2 separate regions of the Homo sapiens genome follow, and region 1 is linked to region 2. Evidence: fine-mapped expression QTL. A gene starts in region 2. The other region holds a variant in brackets. All regions are shown on one strand. Distances are between the middles of the regions.

Region 1 (11,548 bases), 92 kb after region 2:
AGCCAGGATGGTCTCGATCTCCTCACCTCGTGATCCGCCTGCCTTGGCCTCCCAAAGTGCTGGGATTACAGGCATGAGCCACCACACCCGGTGGAGATGGGGTTTCTCCATGTTGGTCAGGCTGGTCTCAAACTCCCGACCTCAGGTGATCTGCCCACCTCAGCCCCGCAAAGTGCTGGGAATATGGGCGTGAGCCACCGCACCTGGCTGGTAATGTCCTTTATTCGTATTTCTTTGGATTTTTTATTATAACTTTCATTATAGTTATCTATTTCATTTCATGTCTGCATACTATTACAGGGAACTGATGATCTATCTTTATTCTAAATAATGAATATTTAATTTTATGTAGTTTTCATTAATACCAATCCTGCAAAGAAAATCATGTATGTGGACCTTACTCTCCCGTCTGATCATTGAAAATAATTTTGGCCAGGTATGGTGGCTCATGCCTGTAATCCCAGCACTTTTGGAGGCCGAGACAAGCAAATCATTTGACCTCTGGAGTTCGAGACCAGCCTTGGCAACATAGCAAAACTCCGTCTCTACAAAATATACAAAAATTAGCCGAGCATGGTGGCACGTGACTATAATCCCAGACACTTGGGAGGCTGATACAGAAGAATCGTTTGAACCCAGGAGGCGGAGGTTGTAGTGAGCCAAGATTGCGCCACTGCACTCCAGCCTGGGCAACACAGCAAGACTCTATTTCAAAAAAGAAATAAAATAAAATAATAATTTAGTTTAATTTAATAATTTCAAACCAGGTGCAGTGATTCACACCTGTAATCCCAGTGCTTTAAGAGGCTAAGGTGGGGGGATTGCTTGAATTCAAGAGTTCAAGACCAGACCAGGCAACACAGCAAGACACCAACTTTATAAATTTTTAAAACTAGCCAGGCATCGTGGTGCGTGCCCGTAGTCCTAGCTACTTGGGAGGCTGGGGCAGGAAGATCTGGACCCCAGGGGTTCAAGGCTGCAGTGGGCTACACTTACATCACTGTACTCTATCCGAGGCAACAGAGCAAAACTCTGTCTCTAAAGAATAAGAATAAACTATAATACAATAATTTCAAATGAAAATTAAAGTGTCAAAAAATAAGAATGTTTAAAATTGTGATCATATATGTCAGATCTCAATTTTTTCTCAAACTCCAAAATCTTTCAAGGGGATATATTACCCTGGTTTTTCTTAAAATAGCCAAAAGCAGATTATCAAATTTCCTGTGATTTTGATAATCTCATTAGAGAGAATTCACCTTATTAATCCCATGTATTTGAATATAAATAATACTATCACCTTTTCAAATATGTATTGGCCACTTCTATTTCTTCTCTAAAATTTACCAATTAATGTATTAATGTCCTTTATTCATATTCCTTTGAATTTTTTTCTCCATTCTGTACATAAGATTCTTATTTTGGATTATGTCTTTTTTAGATATCAAAGTGGTAAATATTTTCACCTTAGGCTGTTATATTCCCTGGTAACACTCTATAAGCCATCTTTGCCATTAGGAATTTAAAGATTTTCTATAGTGAGTGTAGCAATCACTGTCCTTTGGTGCCTGGAGTACTAGGTGCACCTGAGGAGGTGGCACAACAGGAAGAGAAGAGGACCCCCGAGGAGGGGTCAGGGAGGAGCTATGTCACCAGTGGTTGTCATCACTCAAGAGGGCACTCCAGACACCCATACCAGAAGGCATAGGTCCTTCAATGGAGAATCCTCTTTCTTCTTCTCTCTCTCTTTCAATTTAGCAAAATAGCTAACATGCCGACCCTAGGTTTCCTCTCTGAACCTCAGCAGGTTTCTCATATTTCACATATTTAAGAGGAAGATGAGGCTGAGAACTGCATCATTCAGCTGTTCTGAGGAACAAACAAAGGAATAGAACACAGTGACTAGAGAATCTTCTGATATCATGGACATTTGAAACTAAAGCTACCAAAACTAAAAAACTAAAAAAAAAAAAAAAAAAAAAAAAGACAGAAAAATGATTACATCCAGGGTTCAAGTACGAGAACCCTGGGCATTATCAAACAAAGTTGAGACTGAATTGCTAAATGTTGCTGGAGCAACTGGCAAGATTCACCGAAACCGATATATGTGCAGCCCAGGATGCTGCATTTTGGTCAAACTCCTTAATACATAAAGGAATAAGAAAAGACCAGTAAATAACATACACACAATGCATGACTTAAGCATGGGGAAAACAAAAGCTAGCTCTTCCTATGTGAAAATCTCCAGAAATCCTTGTGTGAAGCCACAGTTACAGCCTGCTGTGCCATGCCACATATGGATATTTTATCTACAAAACAACCAACGTGGCACATGTCAAAAGTACTCTTTCAAAACTGAGCTCCTAGTGCCTGTGAGTATAAAGTAGTTAAAAAGAAACATCGGCAGGTGCAGTGGTGCACACCTGTAATCCCAGCACTTTGGGAGGCTGAGGCAGGCAGACCACTTGAGGCCGGGAGTTCAAGACCAGCCTGGCCAACATGGTGAAACCCCGTCTCTACTAAAAATACATATATTAGCCAAGTGTGGTGGTGAGCGCCTGTAATCCCAGCTACTTGAGAGGCTGGGGCAGGAGAATCGCTTGAACCCGGGAGGCGGAGGTTGCAGTGAGCCGAGATTGCGCCACCACACTCCAGTCTGGGCAACAGAGCAAGGCTCTGTCTCGAGGAAAAAAAAAAAAAAAGGAGCATCAATTCAATGGGAACATGATGCAACCATAAATAATGAATATTACATAATATTAAACACAAAGAACACAATTTAAATTAGATAAGTATCAATACAAATACAGTTATGAATATACATGAGGAATAGCATGAGAAAATAAAAATGCCTAATTAGTGAGAAAAGATGTAGTGAAATGGGAGAATTGTTCCTTCCCACTAAATTTCTACTCATAACATAAATAATGGTAAAAGTAAACAAAATCAAATCCAAACGCAAATTCAACACAAAAGAAACAAGGAAGCATCTGGCACACAACAGGTGCACAAATAACTGTTGTTCTCCTTGAGTCTTCCCAAGACCGAGAAAAACATGTGACAATCTTAAGTAGCAAAACAGAATCTGAACAGCAAAAGAGACCAGACTTACTCACCTTGAACATGGTCATTTTTCCTCCTTCTTTGGGGAATTTGCAGAGTTCTCAGTTATGCAGTTCAAGAGAAGACAGAATTGTGCCTGAAACATGCCATGGAAGGCAAAAAAAAAAAAAGAGACATGAAGGGGTGGTCAGTGATGCCACCCAACAGTATGAACATGTGTTGTGAATTAGCACTTGAATGTTCACAGGGGCATTATTCATAATAACCCAAAATTGCACACAACCAAAATGCCTTCCTATGGGTAAATGGACAAATTGTCGCCTATCCATACAATGAAATCTTACTTGGAAATTTAAAGAAATGAAATATTGACTCATGCTACAACATGCATGAACCCTGGAAACATTATGTTAAATGAAAGAAGGCAGTCACAAAAACCCATGGACTGTGTGATCGCATTTATATGAAATGTTCAGAATAGGCAAATGTATCATAGAGAAAGTAGATTAGTGGTTGCTTCACATTTGAGATGAGAATGAGGTTTAACTATAAATGGGCACAAGGAGTCCAACTGGGAGATAAAAATGATCTAAACTGAATCATGATCATGGTTATTCCACTTCACAAAATTCCTAAAAATCACGGAGTTCCATGCCTGAAATGGGTGAAAGCTATATGTGAAATACATCTTGATAGAATTGGAAAAAATAATTGTTAATCTACATGTCATTGAAATCAGTAAGACTGAATTCTGAGTCCATATCAATAGAATATTTATAGTTGAATGAAGGAATGAATAAATGGGGGAGAAATGGAAACTCTTCTTTACAGTAGAATGTCCACTAATCATGTATCTCCCCATAAGGAACTTTATTATTTTCAAAATTTAAAAAAAGTAACTTCACAGTGGACAAATCTGAAAGACTTCATCTTGGCCAAGTGAACAAAGTTGAGATCACCAGTGAAGGGACAAACCAACATCATTTGGACACTGTTAGGTTGCAATGAAAAGGACATCTCACCACTACTATGGTATCCCTGCCAATCATGCATACTCTAAACGTAAACATGAAATTTACCAGACAAACCCCAAATGAATGTCTTTCTGCAAAACAACTTGCCTATACTCTTCAAAAAACCATGCATATAAAAGACAAAGGCTGTGGAATCCTTCTAGATTAAACAAAAGTATAGAAATGTGACAATAAAGACAATGCATAAAATTGGACTTTGAATGGGGTTACAGGTAAAAAGTGGGGCAAGGGATAGTTATAAGGACCAAAAGAAGAAACTGAATAAATTTAAATATGGAAGCTGCAGATTAGATAACAACGTTATGTAATATGGTATCCAACACTATCTAATAAATGACACTACAACTACTATTATTAGCTTTTTAACAGATGTGATATGTAATAGATAACAATATTATTTAATATAATATTTAATTATTTTTTTGAGACAGAGTCTCACTCTGTCATCCAGATCAGAGTGCAGGGGCGCCATCTCAGCTCACTGCAGCCTCTGCCTCCCAGGTTCAAATGATTCTTATGCGTCAGCCTCCCTAATAGCTGGGATTACAGGCGCACGCCCCCTCAAATTTTAAAAAAGTAACTTCACAGTGGACAAATCAGCTAATTTTTGTATTTTTAGTAGAGATGGGGTTTCTCCATGTTGGCCAGGCTGGTCTTGAACTCCTGGCCTCAAGTGATCCACCTGCCTCGGCCTCCCAAAGTGCTACAATTACAGACATAAGCCACCATGCCTAGCCAGTATAATATCTAATAGTATCTAGCATGTTATGTGAAACCCTATAACCAGCCCTTTCTAAACACCTCTTACCAAGACACCCCACAATTATCTTGAAATGTGGGCTTCTTTGCTGCAGAAAGCTACAAGCAACTGTCTCTGGCTACAGGTATGTTCCTGGTGGTATCTGGGTGATCAGCAAGAACAAAGCAAACAGGAAAAATGTAAACATTTGGCAAATTTGGGTAAAGAGTATATGAGAATTTCTAACACTATTTTTGCAATTTTTCTATAGGTTTCAAATGATATGAAAATAAAACGTTAAATATTTTTTTTTTTTGAGACCGGGAGGCAGAGGATGCAGTTTCGCTCTTGTTGCCCAGGCTGGAGTATAATGGTGCAATCTTGGCTCACTGCAACCTCCGCCTCCCGGGTTCAAGCGATTCTCCTGCCTCAGCCTCCCGAGTAGCTGGGATTACAGGCATGCGTCACCATGTCTGGCTAATTTTGTATTTTTAGTAGAGATGGAGTTTCTCCATGATGGTCAGGCTGGTCTCAAACTCCCGACCTCAGGTGATCCGCCCACCTCGGCCTCCCAAAGTGCTGGGATTACAGGCGTGAGCCACCATGCCCGGCCAATATCAGGAAACATTTACCAAAAAAAAAATGAGATAACGATGAGATAAATTAGGATGAGCATGATATAACATGTAAGTTCACTAGCTATTTCCCTCTTGGCAGTGTTTCCAAATTTCCATAGTTAAACACATAAGGGAAAACACATTTTTTTAATCATAAAATTTTGTTTAAATGTTTATAAATAAATATGCAAATATGCCAAAGAAAGACCAAAAAGAAATGCACCGGGTGCGGTGGCTCACGCCTGTAATCCCAGCACTTTGGGAGGCCGAGGCTGGTGGATCATGAGGTCAGGAGATCAAGACCATCCTGGCTAACACGGTGAAACCTCATCTCTACTAAAACTACAAAAAAATTAGCCGGGCGTGGTGGCGGGCGCCTGTGGTCCCAGCTACTCACACAGGAGGCTGAGGCAGGAGAATGGCGTGAACCTGGGAGGCGGAGTTAGCAGTGAGCCGAGATCGTGCCACTGCACTCCAGCCTGGGCAACACAGTGAGACTCTGTCTCAAAAAAAAAAAAAAAA[T/AT]GCACTCGAAGTTTAACAGTTACTATCTTTACATGCTGGATTCATGGGTAATTATAAACTTGTACTACTCGTATTTCTCCAATTTCTGAACGCTCCACAATCATACCGCTGCATAACAAGTGAAATATTTGTAATAAATGAAATAGTTCTAATGAATGAAATAGTTGATAAACTCCCAGAACAGTCCAAGCCCATAAGCCTTGCTCTCAAGGCTCCCTTCAATCAAGTCCTAGCTTGCTTTCCCCACTAGATTCCAGCTAGTTCCTCTGCCTCAATGAGAATGTATCCAAAAGATTATCAACTAAGGCTCTGACCTGTAACGCCCAGGTTTCAACCGCAGCTCCACCTCTTACTGCTTAGGTGACTATTCTCAGATAACTCCTGCTCCTTTGTATCTCACTCATCTTTAAAACTGAAAAAAGTAGTACCTCTCCACAGAGCCACGGTGTGGCGAAAATGTGACTACTTGTATAAAGCTCTTGGGATAAAGTTACCAATTGAGGCTTAATTATTATCAACACCCATGCCTGAGGACACATCCTACACTCTTGGTCGGGGTGAGCATCTCTGTAAAAGAAAAAAAGCCAAGGACCACTCTCGTGGAACTTTGCCCTCAGTAGCCAAGAAGTCCCTCCCTGCAGCTCTTTTTGAGAATCAGGCTGGGGAAGGAGAAAGCTGTGAAACACCCTGACCGCATTGCCGTCCGGCATAAAAGTTAAATGTTCCTCTCCCTTCGTGGAAATGGAAACAACCCTCGCCTTCCTAAAAAGAGGTCAGAAGCGTCCGGGATCACCCAGCGTCCTGCAGGAATCAGAGACAAGGGCGGGGATCCCTGCAGATGGAGCTCTGACCCCACCCGGGGACCTGACAGGCTTCGTGGGAAATAAACACTAAGAAGAGACCACCAGTCACTAAGGGAGGGGCTGCTTTAAGGCTTTCATTTGTGTTACCTCTTCCAGTTCCCAAAACGATTTCATTAGGATGGTCCTAAAGTCCCCATTTTAAAGAACAGCAGTGGGAGGTACAGGGAGATTAATAACATCCCAACCCTAAATTGTGAGAAAGTAGCCTCACAGGTGGGATGGAGGGAGGCGGACTGAGCGAGCTGAGAGCCCCAAAAACCCTCAAACCAGGCGAGACGCGTCCCGACCAAGTCCCAACCCCCAGCCTCATGCCCGGGGACGCGAGGACAGCCCCAAGACCAAGAAGGCTCCGCTGACAAGAACGAAAAGAGAGGCCGTTGTCCCTCCAAACCTCCGTTTTCCAACGAGACTCCTTCTCCCCTTAGTCAACTTCCAGGTGGTTGCGAGCCAGCATCGTAAGGGGACACGTTTAGAAGGACCGACAAGACACAGGACTGACACCAAACTACCACCGAATGCACTGCAGCAACCTCGCCCCCCGGGAGCGGAAGTGCCCCTACCCCGCGCAGCGTGTGAACTACATTTCCCAGAATTCCCCGGATACGCCGTCCTGAGCCTACTTGCTCGTCATTCAACAGATCTCCTGCGCTACACTTCCTTGAATCTCAAAGGAGACGTTCTATAGTATCACCTTCCGGCGGGAAGCGTGGGACTCCGCGGTGCTCTTTGACTACACTTCCTGCAATGCCCACGAGGAATGAATCCCATAGACCCAAGCGCCTGGTTTGGAATATGGACTGTGGCCCTGAGAGTGGTCCTTCCCTCTCCCTGCGTCCTCGAGAGAAAATATTGAATAGACAGGAATTCCTGAAGTCTACACGCCTCCCATGATGACAGGAGTGTTACTGAAAGAGAACAAAGCAAGGAGATACAATCTTCAAGGAGTTAGCGGGGAGTGACTGTGGAGCGGTCAGGAGATGGCTGAAAGGCTAATATACTAGACGCTAATAGTATGAGGCTAAATCTAAGAGCTTAAATAATGGGCCAGGAAAAATGGTTTGGGAGAGGCATTGAGTGGGGCACCAGCCCCTGGTACAACCAGACACTGTTGTACCACTGGTTTGGCAAGAAAAACAACCACAGTTTAAGTGTTTAAGAGGGCTGTAAGAGTTAAAGAGAAAAAAAAAAAAAACACGAAAAGCGGCTCAACAGTCAAAGACAGGTTCGTTTTGGAGAATAAACCGAGAGGGCCTTCTGGCCGATTGCAGTCAGGAGCGCTCTCTCTTACGGACTAAGAGTATGTATTGGCTTTAGGGAGAGAGAGCTTACCACAGGCTTAGAATGTTTCTGTATTGGGGAGAAGTCTGTTGTGGGGTTGGAATATCTCTGGTTGGAGGGGAAGTTATCTTGGGACTGACATCTCTCCAATGGAAGGGAGGTTATCTCGGTGCTGGCATGTCTCTGGTCAGGGAGGGGTTTATCTTATGGTTGGAATGTTTCTGATTGGAGATGTCATTTGTGGTTTATGGTCATGCTGACCTTAGCCATTAGGCTGATGCCCTTTGGATTTAGGCAGTTTTTGATCAACGCGAACTTTAAAATGGCAGTGTTTGTCCAAGATGGCGATGCTCCTGCCCTGTCAAGGGCCAATATGGAGGGCCAATTGCCCTCCTGGAAAAGCTATCTTCCCACTTTTAAAGTTTTCATATTAATATTCTTTAGACGTGGAAATGCCACATTTAAGAGAAATTAAACTGCTTAGTATTGTGAAAGGAAAATATCTTGGGCCCCCAAAATCACTAAGGAAATCTCAAGCTGGAAATCGCTTAGGGCAAACCTGCCTCCCATTCTATTCAAAGTCACTCCTCTATCTGTCCTTGCTATCACGAGAACAGCATGGGAAAGACCCACTCCCATGATTCAATTACCTCCTACTAGGTCCCTTTCATGATATGTGGGAATTATGGGAGCTATAATTCAAGATGAGATTTGGGTGGAGACACAGCCAAACCGTATCAGTATGTGTAGATTTCTTATTTTCCATTATTACTTAAAAGAAAGCACGTTTCTAACTCTTCTATGGTCATGTAACAACATATCCTAGAAATCACTTCATGTACAGTACATTCTTTTTAGTGCTGCGTAAACTAGAAAATCCAGAAATAAATTTCTACACCTACAGTGAGCTCATTTTCAACAAAGGTGCTAAGTATATATATTGGGAAAAGGACAGTCTCTTCAATAAATGGTGCTAGAAAAACATGATATCCACATATAGAAGAATGAAACTTCAACCCTGTTGTTCACCATATACAAAAATAAAATCGAAATGGATTAAAGACTTAAATCTAAAACCTCGAACTATGAAACTACTACAAGAAAACATTGGGGAAATGTTCCAGGACATTGGTCTGGGCAAAGATTTCTTGAGTAATACCCCAAAAGCATAGACAACCAAAGCAAAAATGGACAAATGGGATCACGTCAAGTTAAGAAGCTTCTGCACAGCAAAGGAAGCAATCAACAAAGTGAAGAGACAACCCACACAATAGGAGAAAATATTTGCAAACTATCCATCTGACAAGGGATTAATAACCAGAATATAAGAAGCTCAAACCAAATAGGAAAAAATTTAATAAATCAATTTTAAAATGAGCAAAATATCTGAATAGACATTTCTCAAAAGAGGGCATACAAATGGCAAACAGGTATATGAAAAGGTGCTCTACATCATAGATCATCAGATAAATACAAATCAAAACTACCATGAGATATCCCACTCCAGTTAAAATAGCTTTTATTCAAAAGACAGGCAATATCAAATGTTGGTGAGGATGTGGAAGGAGTGAAGGAGGGAATCCTCGCACATTGTTGGTGGGAATGTAAATTAGTAGAACCACTGCGGAGAACAGTATGGAGGTTCCTCAAAAAATTAAAACTATATCAAAGTGATATCTGCACCCTCCCCTGCAATGTTTATTGCAGCACTATTCACAATAACCAAAATTTGGAAGCAACCTAAGTATGCATCAACAGGTGAATGGATACAGGAAATGGACATATACACAATGGAGTACTATTCAGCCACAAAAAGAATGAGATTTTGTTATTTGCAACAATATGGATGGAATTGGAAGGACATTACATTCAGTGAAATAAGTCAGGCACAGAAAGACAAACTTCACATCTTCTCACTTATTTGTAGGAGCTAAAAATTAAAACAATTGAATGCATGGAGACAGAGAGCAGAATGTTGGTTACCAGAGGGAGGGAAAGTTAAGGTTGGTGGTGAGGGAAGTGGGGATGGTTAGTGGGTACAAAACTATGCTTAGATAGAATGAATAAGATCTGGTATTTGATAGCACAACAGAGTTACAGTCAATAATAATTTATTGTACATTTGAAATAACTAAACGAGTACGGATTGTTTCTAACACACACAAAAATCTGATAAATGCTTGTGGTAACAGATACCCCATTTACCCTGATATGATTATTATGCATTGTATGCCTGTATCAACATATATACTCCATATGTGTACCCATAAAAATTAGGATTTTTTTTTTTTAGGCTGAGTGCAGTGGCTCATGCCTGTAATCCCAGCACTTTGGGAGGCTGAGGTGGGCAGATTACTTGAGTGCAGTAGTTCGAGACCAGCCTGGGCAACATGGAGGAACCTCATCTCTATAAAAAAATACAAAACTTAACCAGAGGCTGTGGTGCACGCCTGTAGTCTCAGCTGCTCAAGAGGCTGAGGTGGAAGGATGGTTTGAGCCCAGGAGGCCACCACATCCAGCTAGTTGTATTTTTAGTAAAGACAGACTTTCACCATGTTGGCCAGGCTGGTCTTGAACTCCTGGCCTCAAGTAAACTGCCCACCTCAGCCTCCCAAAGTGCTGGAATTACAGGCATGACACTGCACCCAGCCCTTTGCCCATTTTTTTAATTGAGTGGTTTCTGTTATTGAGTTGTAAGAATTCTTTATATAATCTGGATAGTAGAACTCATGCTGTATGGTCTTTTCATGTTCATGACAATGTCCATGTATGCACAGCATTTTTTAAAACCTAGGTCCCATTTAGGTATTTATATTTGCTTTTGCTTATGTTGTTTCATTGAAGAATCCATTCCAAATAAAGTCAGGAAGATTTACTTCTATGTTTTCTTCTAATACTTTTATAGTTTAGCTGTTACATTAGGTCACTGATGAATTTTGAGTTAACTTTTAAGTGTAGGGTGAGGTACAATCTAACTTCATTATGTTGTGTGTCTGTGTATAGGTGTCCCAGCAGTATTGGTCGAAGAGACTATTCTGTCTCCATAAAGTAATCTTGGATCCTTCTTGAAAATCAAGTGGCCTTAGATGTATGGGTTTCTTTATGGACTCTCACTTCTATTCCATTTGTATATATATCTGCCTCCTGGGTTGAAGCGATCCTCCCACTTCAGCCTCTCCAGTAGTCTCCAGCTGGGACTACAGACATACACCAACACAACTGGCTAATTATTGTATTTCTTGTAGAGATGGGGTTTCTGATGTTCACTGAGAAATCTAAAAATAATGCATACAATTATAAAATAGAAAAATACCAGCAAATATTCACTGCTGAAGAAAATAAGAATATAATTGTAACACACTATGTATGTACACTCAAAAAAAAAATTCCAGAAACACAGAGAGATGCTTGTCTAGAAACAAAGAAAGGTAT
Region 2 (11,548 bases):
AACTTGAGCACGTTCCTCATTTTTCACAAGCCCTTTTCTATTTATGTTTAAAATGGAGACAAAACAAAGAACCTCTTCATAGTTGCTGTGAGGTCTCAATACAGGGGCAGAGTGTAAGTGCTTGGCAAATCCTTTCCTACCACTAGGCATTTTAAATTAAGGTCACATACTACTTTAACTAAAAAAAATATTAAAAGGGAAAAAGACCAGTAAACACACAGGGTATGACTGAGGCATGGGGAAGACAGAATCTAGCTCTTGTAGTAAAAAAAAGTCTAATATTTTTTCTGGGTGAAGCAGCTGTTAAATCTTGACACACTGTGCCATATTTGAATATTCTATCAAAAAAAATCTGAAGTACCACACACAAAACATACCTTTTCAATTCTGAATACCTAATGTTACGGATTTTAAAAGGCAGTATTTTTCAAAATTGATTTTTTCAGAAAAAGTTAAATGCAAGAAAACTAACACTGTAGTTCCTAAAACAGTAAAAATCCTACACTAACTGTATATAGAGAATAGTTTAAAAACTGGATACATAAATTTGATAGAAATACAACAAAAATAAATGTTATAAATGTAAGAAATGTAAAATTATATCTATGTTATGAATGCCAATATATAATTACAAGTACATACAATGAAGAGATTATGGAAATAAGATTTTTTCATTTCTATTAATTTTTTTTTTTTTTTTTGAGACAGAGTCTTGCTCTATTGCCCAGGCTGGAGTAGTGGCACGATCTTGGCTCACTGCAACCTCTGCCTTCCAAATTTAAGTGATTCTCTTGCCTCAGCCAACTGAGTAGCTGGGATTACAAGTGTGCACCGCCATACCTGGCTAATTTTTTTATTTTTTATTTATTTATTTTTTTGAGACGGAGTCTCGCTCTGTCACCCTGGCTGGAGTGCAGTGGTACGATCTCTGCTCACTGCAAGCTCCGCCTCCCAGGTTCAGGCCATTCTCCTGCCTCAGCCTCCCGAATAGCTGGGACTACAGGTGCCTGCAACCACGCCTGGCTCATTTTTTGTATTTTTAGTAGAGATGGGGTTTCCATGTTAGCCAGGATGGTCTCGATCTCCTGACCTTGTGATCCACCCGCCTCAGCCTCCCAAAGTGCTGGGATTACAGGCGTGAGCCACCATGCCCGGCCTAATTTTTGTATTTTTAGTAAAGATGGGGTTTCACCATGTTGGCCAGGCTGGTCTCAAACTCCTGACCTCAAGTGATCCCACCCCCTGCCTCGGCCTCCCAAAGTGCTGGGATTACAGGTGTGAGCCACTGTGCCCACCCATCATTTCTATTAATTTTTCTACCTTTATTTGTAAAATAAAAATGACGAAATAAAACTAAAACCAAAACCAGCTAAACTCAAACGGAACAAAATAAGCACCTAGCACACTCAACAGGTCATCAGATGCCTTGACTCTTACTTGAAAAAGAAAAACCTGGTTCCATCTCTGAGTACTAAAATGGTATTTTTAACAGCTGGGAAAGGCAAGCTCTACTCACCTTGAACATATTCATTTTTAATTCTTCCTTCTGGGGAAGTGCAGAGTCCTAAGAAGCTGAACTAGGAAAGAAGAGAGAAATAAATCAAAACTGGGTAAGTATGTTGCTAATGCACGTGGCTGCTCTTTAGGAATTAGCAAAGGTGTGTGCTTCTTGGGGTGGCTGCAGCTTTATGTGGCTTTTAAGCAGATTATGACATGGATCCCAGATATCCAACTACCCCTTTCAGCAGTAGTTCAGAACCAGGCTAACCACACAGTGGCCTCACTGCCCATGTGCCTGTAATTGCACGCCAGTAATTCTTATTTTGAGTACAGCGTAAATTGAGACAATATAAGTACAGTAGGCCTGGAATTGATATGCATGGGTTAAAATCCTGACACTAAAAGCGTCACCTTGGGGAAACTATTAACATCTCTTTGCCTTACTTCTGTCATCTGCAAGTGGTAAAGAATAACAGTACCAACCTCATCGGATTGCTGGAAGGTAGAAAGCTCTTACAACACAGTCAGGTATCTTATTTATTTGCAACTGCAATAAGTAGAAGATGGTCTATGGTTTGAAATTATCCTTAAAAATATAATTTCCACCAACAGAATATTATAAGATAGTTGGAGTTCACAGGTTGTTGCTATGTCACGTGAAAGTGTCTTATAACTTCTGAAAAACATCTTGTCGTCTTTCCAATAATTTGCCAACACTGAACTAATAAAACCGAAGATACCGCAATTAAAAAACACCGTTTGACAATCCATACCTAACTTAAATTAAAAATGCAGGAACCTGGCCAGGCACAGTGGCTCATGCCTGTAATCCTACTAGCACTTTGGGAAACCAAGACAAGCAGATCACTTACAGTCAGGAGTTGAAGACAAGCCTGGCCAACAAGATGAAACCCTGTCTTTACTAAAAGACAAAAATTAGCTGGACATGGTGGCAGGCACCTGTAATCCCAGCTACTTGGGAAGCTGAGGCACAAGAATTGTTTGAACCCAGGAGGCGGAGGTTGCAGTCAGCTGAGATTGCCCCACTGCACTCCAGCCTCGGCGACTGAGTGAGACTCTGTCTCAAAAAAAAAAAAAAAAAAAAAAAAAAAAGGAAAAGGGAGGAACCTGAGTCTATATTGTTATAAACAAAAGAATGTGTAATAAATAAATGGGTGACAAAAGAAAGCTCCTATAGTAGAACACATAAACTAATAAAGGTAGAATGAAAGATAACTAGAACATCATCAATAGCTGCTAAAAACTGGTGAGTTTGGTGAGGAATAAGATGGCTACATAGTCTCAAAGTATTAAGTGCAAAAGGAAAAAGGTAACCTGGCAGACATTTTATCCAAAAAAACAAAGTTGAGACCACTAGTGGGACAAACCCACAAACCAACATTTGACTCCTATGATGCACTGAGAAGGATGCCTCCCTACTTTTATGGCATCTCTGCTGACAATGCATAGCTTGAATTTAATCATGAATAAATATTAAGGAAACAAAAAAATAAGAACATTTTACAAATAATTTCTCAATACTCTAGAAAGATATCGAGAGCAAAAAAGAAATAAAGTCTGAGGAATCATTCTAGACTAAAGGTGACTAATGAAACCAAAACTAAGTGCAATGCATACAATTAGACTGGAAACTCATCTGGGGGAAGAAATTACTTTCAAAGTCTTTAATGGGAAAATGGAGTAAGTTTAAATACAAACTGTGGGTTAGATAACAGTAAGTTATCAATGTAACTAATTTCATTTTCATCACTATCTCTAGCTTGCTCTCAAATACTTCAGCAAAAAGACAAAAACAAAATATAAGTATGACAAAGTTGTGAAAGCAAAAAGACAAAAAAAAAAACAAAACAAAAAACTACTTTGACAACAGCAGCAACAACCAGAACCTGGTGTTTCCAATTTATCAACAAGAATGAGACAGGTCTACTCAGTGATCATGGTGAAAAAGAAAAAAACAAAACAGCTTGTAACACAGAGAGAAATACATCCTACATTGATAAAAATAGCCAAATAATTGCCTCTTCCATCTAACATGACCACTTTGTTATCAGTGACAACTCCAGTCTTGTTATTTCCCCACCTCCAACATAAAAATTACAATAGTCTGATCAAATTACTACTGCTTCTTCACAGCATCCAATCCAGAACAAACCCATTGCCTAAAACTCTCCCCAACTCATCTAACATAAACCAAAACCCTATAACCAGGGTCCTCCTAATTGCCTCTTACCAAGACACCCCATGCATGTGTGGGCTCCTTGGATGCAGCAAGCTAAAACAAACAATTGTTGTTGGTTACAGGTATGTTCCTGGTGATGGCTGATGGTCATCAACAGAGCACACAGGGAAAACATAACATAACAAACAAACGTAACAACTGGTGAATCTGGGTGTAGAGTATATGAGATTTCCTTACGTTATCATTTTTGCAGCTTTTCTACAAGTTTGAAATTATATTTTTAAAAAAAGTTGGCTGGGCACGGTGGCTCATGCCCATAATCCCAACACTTTGGGAGGCCGAGGTGGGTGGATCACCTGAGGTCAGGAGTTCGAGACCAGCCTGGCAAACATGGTGGAACCCCATCGCTACTAAAAATACAAAAAAATTAGCCGGTGTGGTGGCGGGTGCCTGTAATCTCAGATGTTTGGGAGGTTGAGGCAGGAGAATCTTTTGAACCTGGGAGGCGGAGGTTGCAGTGAGCCGAGATCACGCCATTGCACTCCAGCCTGGGCAACAAAAGTGAAACTCTGCCTCAAAAAAAAAAAAAAAAAAAAAGTTAAAGAAATTAGGAAAGTCATTAATCAGAATAATAACGATGACGAGATGATGACAACTATGGCAATAATATCTAACGTTAATTAACAATAAATAGGTAGCTGATCTTCCCACTTCAGGCAGAAGGCCTCCAGTACAAAAGATGGGAAGGAATCTACTCCCCAAAGCCTGGGAGAAATAGATCTTCAGGACTCTGAGTTTCTCCATTTTGACTCTAGACTTGACAGCTGCCTTCTACTCATGTCATGGTTTTTGCAAAGAAACTTGACAGTTAATATTTAGTGGGAAAGAAAAATCACTGGACTGAGTAGGGTTCTAGTATGGCCAGCTCAGTTTTATCTGTGACATCTGGCAGGGTCAGTTTTCTAGTCCTGAGTTTCCAGATAAGACCTTTTCCTGAGCTTCTCAAACTTTAACATGCATCTCGCTCACCTTGGGATCTTGTTGAAATGCAGATTTCTGGGTCCTATCTGCAAAAATGCTAAATCAGAAGGCCTTCGGTAGGGCTCAAGAATGAGCCTTTCTACCTGGGTGATGCCAATGTTGCTGCTTTGTGAACCACAGTTTGAGTAGTGTTGCACTGTACTCAGTCCCTCTCCCAAAACAGCCCCTAATAAACAGAAATATATACAAGAAAAACTTGACAGAAAGGCACTAAACTATAGTTGTTATCTTTATACCCTAAGGTCATGGGGAATTTACATTTTTTAAATGTATTTCTGTGTTTTCCATGATTATGTGTTACCTCTATATTATTTGAAACAAATAAAACTAATAATTGAGAAAACTATTTTTAAAAACTCTTTTCTTTTTTTGAGACAGAGTCTTGCTCAGTTGCCGAGGCTGGAGTGCACCGGTGTGATCTCAGCTTACTGCAGCCTCGCCTCCTGGGTTCAAGCGATTCTCCTGCCCCAGCTTCCCAAACTCCTGGGATTACAGGTGTTGGCCACCACGCCTGGCTAATTTTTGTATTTTTAGTAGAGATGGGGTTTCGCCATGTTGGCCAGACTGGTCTCAAACTCCTGGCCTCAAGTGATCTGCCCGCCTCAGACTCCCAAAGTGCTGGGATTACAGGCGTCAGCCACTGTGCCCAGCCACTATTTTTTAAAAGTCATAGAATAGCCCAGACCTTGAGCAAAGTCCCCACAGTGAAGTCCCAACCTATTTTCACATGATACTAGCCAGCTGCCTATGGCTCATGCAGAACATACCAAAGAAGACTCAGGTCTAGACTCAGACTGCCTCGGTTTCAATGCTAGCTCTGCCTCCTACTAGCTAGGTGGCTATGAGCAAACAAGTTATGTTCTTATGTCTCAGTCTCCTCGGAAAAAGAGTATCACTTCACAGAGCCACTGTATAGTGGAAAGGTGTTCATTTGTATAAACCCCTTAGAATGGAACTTAGCAACTAACGCTAAATTATAATCACTTCTCATGCCCAAATACATGACCCCACACATTCTCTGATTTATGTGAATAAAACAAGAATAACAACAAGTCTTACTCACATGGGGTTCTGCTGCCTCCTCCTCTGTGCAGTGCTTTTTGAGAAGTCAGGGCTGGGGAAGAAAAACAGGCTATGAAGTAACCAGGATTGTGTCTTCATCCCGGATACATCACAGTGGCATCTCCCAGGACCAGTTAGAAGCAACCCTCTCCTTCCTCAAAAGAGGTCAGGGACAATCCAGCTTCATGGACTCACAGAATTTCGCCACAGAACGGGAGTTTCTAGGAAAATTACAGTAGTATTGGTAATTCACGTGCCAGGCAGTTTTACACTTTTTGTATTACCTCGTTTTCTCTCAAAACATTCTATTAGGAAGTTTTTGCTTTTATTTTCCTTCAGAACAGCAAACGAAGGCACGGGGATTAACTAACTCGCTCAATGTGATACTGTATGAAGTGGTAGGGCTGGCTCATTAGGTGGGGGAGTCACAATGAGGGAGCGAACAGCCCGAGAGACCTTCAAACCCGACGAAGCATCACCCCAGCCGCCCGAAGCCAGTACGCCCCCAATTCTAACAAGCTCCGCCCAGGGAAACGCAAAACAGCATCCTGGCCCCTCAAACCTCCGCTCTTAGCCGCTACTCCTTTTTTTCCCCAAACAAAAGACCGCTAGCTGCTGACCACAAGTGCATTTCGGGGAAGTTTGAAAGGTTCCTGAGAAGCTGACCTGAATCACCAAAGCCAGGGAAAAGATGGCTGCTACGTCGTCTTCCTGGGCGGAAGTGCCTGCGAGTATCAGGAGGACCTGGACTACGCTTCCCAGAATTCCACAGCACTGCCTTCCTCGAGCCGGAAGTGCCTACAACTACCTAGAACGATTGGACCTACAGTTCCCAGGATTCCGCAGGGGAAACATTTACAGCCTTACTGCAGCTGAGCTATGCGCGACTACACGGAACTCCGGACTACATATCACAGAATGCTGGAGTTGGGGGAAAAACAGAACAGTACCGCCCTCCTGGACTACACTTCCGGAATGTCCAAGCCTTCTGATGTGGAAGTGTCCAACTACCTTGAGCTCCTGGTTTTCATTTCCCAGAATCCCTCACTTCTCTTTAGGTATTATTATGGTCTGAGTGTTTATGGCCCCCACCAAATTCGTATGTTTAAATCCTAACTCCCAAGAAGATATTAGGAGGTGGAACCTATGGGACGTGATCAGATCAAGAGGGCAATGCCCTCATGAATAGGATTAATGCTCTCTTATAAGTGGCCTGAGGGAGCTCCTTTGCCTCTTTAGTTATGTGAGGACACAGCCAGAAGGACCATGTATGACTTAGAAAGCGGGACCTCACCAGACACTGAATCTGCTGGCACCCGATCTGGGGCTTATGTGCCAGCAATTTCACTCCTAAGTAAATACCCAGGAGAACTGAAAGATATCCACACAAAAACTTGTTCTAAAAAAGTTCATAGCAGCATTAGTCATAATAGTCAAAAAGTGGAGAAGACCCAATGTCCATCAGCTGATGAGTGGATAAACAAAATGTGGTCTAGCCATATAATGCAATATTATTTAGTAATGTGAATGAACAAAATATTGATTCATGTTATAACATAGATGAACTCTGAAGACATTATGTCCAATGAAAGAAGCCAGACACAAGATACCATATATGGTATGATTCCATTTATATCAAATGTGCAGAATAGGCAAGTCCATAGAGACAGAAAGTAAATTAGTTGTCTCCAAGGCTGGGGAGATGTAGTTGGGAATGGGGAGTGACTGTCAATATGTAGGGTTTTTTTTTTCTTACTTTTTTAGAGACAGCGTCTTGTTATGTTTCCCAGAATGGAGTACAGTGGCTATTCACAGGCATGATCATAGCACACTGCAGCCTTAAATTCTTGGGCTCAAGTGATCCTCCCGCCTCAGCCCCCTGGGTAGTTGAGACTACAGGCATGCACCACCACACCCAGCTCATGTAGGGGATTTCTTTTGGGAGCAGATGAAAGAGTTCTAGGATTAGATAGTGGTAATCATTACATAATATTGTGGATCTTTTCAAAGATAGAAAAATGTTATGTGACAATATCCCCTAAAGCGTTAAAATGTAGCTAAACTCAAAGCTAAGACAGGGAAATCCCAACGGCCAAAGATGAACAGGCAAGTTAGGCCCACAGATGAAAAAACTGAATGATCCCACAAGGGCTGGGCATACTAGGTAAGAGCTAAGGAATTAATCTTGTGTGTGAATGGGAGTTAGAGTAGCCATGCATTTTGGGAGACATGAACTATACAATATTACAAATGAAACAGTTCTCTCCTCTTGACTGTGAACAAACAACAACCAACCAAAAACAAAGCCAGATAGCTCCCAGCTTCTACAGCTGTCTTGTGACTAACCTGAAAACTCTGGTCATGAGGAGGGTAGATGTAGACTGTACCTACAGTCTTATCAGTTATGGGGCAGAGGGGCAAGAAATTATTTGGTTTAGTCTACTGGTTTTGGTTACAAATTACCTTGAAGGAAGATGACCTAATGTGGTATCTGGTGATACAAAGAAAGAAAAAGAAAGAAAAGAATATAGGTACTGGATTTCTGAAGCCCTTTGTTCAGAAAAGAGTTAACATAGGCCTGAGACTGTTGTACTTAAAAGGCCTGCTTGCAACATGCTATAGTTTGATGGTGTTCCCTTGTTAAAACTTAATCCCTTCTTGCTTTTTCATCACTTCCACCATATGAGGACATAGCATCTGTCTCCTCCAGAGGATGCAGCAACTGGATGCCATATTGGAAGCAGACAGCAGCAGCCCTCACCAGATGTTAAACCTGCCAGCATCTTGACCTTGGACTTCCCAGCCTCAAGCACTATGACAGATAAATTTATATTGTTTATAAATTACCTAATCTGTGGTATTCTGTTATAGCAGCGCAAGATATAAGGTTAGCCCTTGACTGGTATCTGGGAACTTGAATTTCAGGAGGATTTCCACAATTCTCTGATGAGAGTGGCTCACCATGCCCCGGCTATTTGTATAATGTGATTTATGCTGAATTCCTTCTGGGAATCTAGAATTTTGGCCCAAGCTGGCCTATGTGACCAGTTCCAAAACAAAACACAACGTAGTGCCTAGGGCACTAAGTCTCCATTGAGCTTACTGGGTAGACATTTCACATGTTTCAATGCTGAAAAAACAGTACATCATGAATGATTCTACAGGGAGTGGATTATTGGAAGCCTGTACCTGATTTCTTCTGGACTTCATCCCATGCACATTTTCCCTTTGCTCAACTGACTTGGTATCTTTTACTACAATAAATCATAGTGACTATGATAACATAGGGTGTCTTGAGTCCTCCTAGTGAATTACAAGAATGTGAAGGTGGTATTATCAATCCCCAGCATACCATGCACATTGAGGTAGCATGGACCTTAATGAGTAGCAAGCATCCAGTGAAGGTATACTGAAGAAAATCAATAGTGGAAAAAAGTCTCCCCAGTTAGATATAATTTATTGAGTAAAGCCCTTTAATCCAGCAGTTCACAACCTTTTTGGCACAGGGGACCAGCTTTGCAGAAGACAATATTTTTCCACAAGGTGAGGTGGGGGGATGGGGATGGTTTGGGGATGATTCAAGCACATTACATTTATCATTTTATTTTCACAAGGAGCGAGCAACTTAGATCCTTTCTTTAAAAAAAAAAAAAGAGTTTCGCTCTTGTTGCCCAGGCTGGAGTGCAATGGCGCAACCTCGGCTCACTGCAACTTCTATCTCCTGCGTTCAAGTGATTCTCCTGCCTCAGTCTCCCAAGTAGCTGGGATTACAGGCACCTGCCACCATGCCTGGCTAATTTTTGTATTTTTAGTACAGATGGGGTTTCACTATATTGGCCAGGCTGGTTTCCAACTCGTGACCTCAGGTGATCCGCCCACCTCAGCCTCCCAAAGTGCTGAGATTAAAGGCATGAGCCACTGCGCCTGGCTGCAACCTAGATCCTTCACATGCGTAGTTCACAATAGGGTTCATGCCACTGATCTGACAGAAGGCAGAACTCAGCTTTGCTCACTTGCCCACTGCTCACCTCTTGCTGTCTGGCCCTGTTCCTAACAGGGTCTGTGGCCTAGGGGTTAGGGACCCATGCTTTAATCAACTACACTGAAAATATCACCATCATGTCCAAGGAATATGGAATGTCATTCAAACCCACTCTTTGTCCTTACTGGTTCCACATCCAGTAAGTGGATTGCACTATATTCTGCTCTTATGCACACTTTTTCCTCAGTGAACCTTTTTAAACATACCTCCCTAACATATGTATACCACTTTGTTTTCATTTCCAGGATTCTCTCTGTGTTACAGATTAATGCTTTAAAAAATGTAGCAAGCAAGGCCGGGCACAGTGGATCATGCCTGTAATCCCAGCACTTTGAGAGGCCGAGGCGGGCAGATCACTTGAGGTCAGGAGCTCGAGACCAGCCTGGCCAACATGGTGAAACCTCGTCTGTACTAAAAATACAAAATTTAGGCCAGGCACGGTGGTTCACACCTGTAATCCCAGCACTTTGGGAGGCCGAGGGCGGATCACAAGGTCAAGAGATCGAGACCATCCTGGCCAACATGGTGAAACCCCGTCTCTACTGAAAATACAAAAATTAGCTGGGCGTGGTGGTGCACACCTGTAGTCCCAGCTACTCAGCAGGCTGAGGCAGGAGAATTGCTTGAACTTGGGAGGCAGAGGTTGCAGTGAGCTGAGATTGCGCCACTGCACTCCAGCCTGGCAACAGAGTGAGATTCCGTCTCGGGGAAAAAAAAAAAAAAAAAACTGAGTTGGACATAGTGGCACGCCCCTGTAATCCCAGCTACTCAGGAGGCTGAGGCAGGATAATCATTTGAATTCGCGAGGCGGAGGTTGCAGTGATTCAAGATTGCACCACTGCACTCCAGCCTGGGCAACAGAGAAAGACTCCATCTCAAAAAAAAAAAAGAAGTGTAGCAGACATTAATTGCAAAGATACAATTGTTCACACTCATCCATTTATCCACATATTCAGAGAATTTTTTTGTTTTTAAAATTGGCTTCCAGAATCTATTAATTATGATCTTATGTGCCATATAACAATATAGAACAATCATATTTTGAAGGGATTATCATATAGCACTTTTTAAAATTCTAATGTACATAATTTACTGCTTTGGTAATACTGATGTTCAATAAGAAATTAAAATGTAATTTATGGAATTATAAAATGGAAAAATACCACAAAATGCTCATTGCAAGAGAAAATTGCTAAAAAAAAAAAAGTATCCTTTACATATTATCTTATGCATGTACATACACACTCACTCATAAAAATGTATAGATTTCATTATGCTACAAAGGCAATAGTCTATGATCTTCCAAAGCCCATATTTTTTCTTTATCCTGTCATTACAGATACCTGCCGCCATTTTAATAGCTTCAGGTCAATACAGGAATGAAAATATCAAAAGTCAAATTATTATAGAGGAACACACACTTCCATTTAAAACAATTCATTGACATCACTGATATGTTACTTAGTCTTTTTGGTATTTTAATCTCATAATCATAAATTCCAATTATATAACTTCCAAATCAGAGATATACAGTGTAAATTCTGAAAAACACTCTTCCTTAAACCCATGTTTTACTGCCAGCAATAGGGAAAAGCATGGTAAATGCCAATCCTGCCCAAATAATAAATTTGATAAAATTATCAAATTTCCACAAGTTGTTTTTGGTATTCGCTTAATGGGTGTGGGGCAAAAATATGGTACAG

The links. PIP is the estimated chance that this variant, and not a neighbour inherited with it, causes the effect.
Region 1: its variant is fine-mapped to the expression of ZNF226 in whole blood (INTERVAL, PIP above 0.99).

What each region holds. Positions count from the first base shown.
Region 1 is chr19:44,067,973-44,079,520 of GRCh38, reverse strand. ZNF284 (zinc finger protein 284) reads right to left here and starts at 7,362. Exons shown (of 5, transcript NM_001037813.4): 1 at 7,230-7,362; 2 at 3,117-3,199. The coding sequence starts at 3,131. ZNF223 (zinc finger protein 223) reads right to left here. Exons shown (of 5, transcript NM_013361.6): 5 at 11,522-11,548. The variant T/AT (reference allele first, on the strand shown) is at 5,976.
Region 2 is chr19:44,160,064-44,171,611 of GRCh38, reverse strand. ZNF226 (zinc finger protein 226) reads right to left here and starts at 6,512. Exons shown (of 6, transcript NM_001032373.2): 1 at 6,470-6,512; 2 at 5,805-5,855; 3 at 1,517-1,577. The coding sequence starts at 1,531. It overlaps ZNF234 (zinc finger protein 234), which reads right to left. Exons shown (of 6, transcript NM_006630.3): 6 at 11,299-11,548. RefSeq lists enhancers at 6,491-6,610, 6,671-6,820.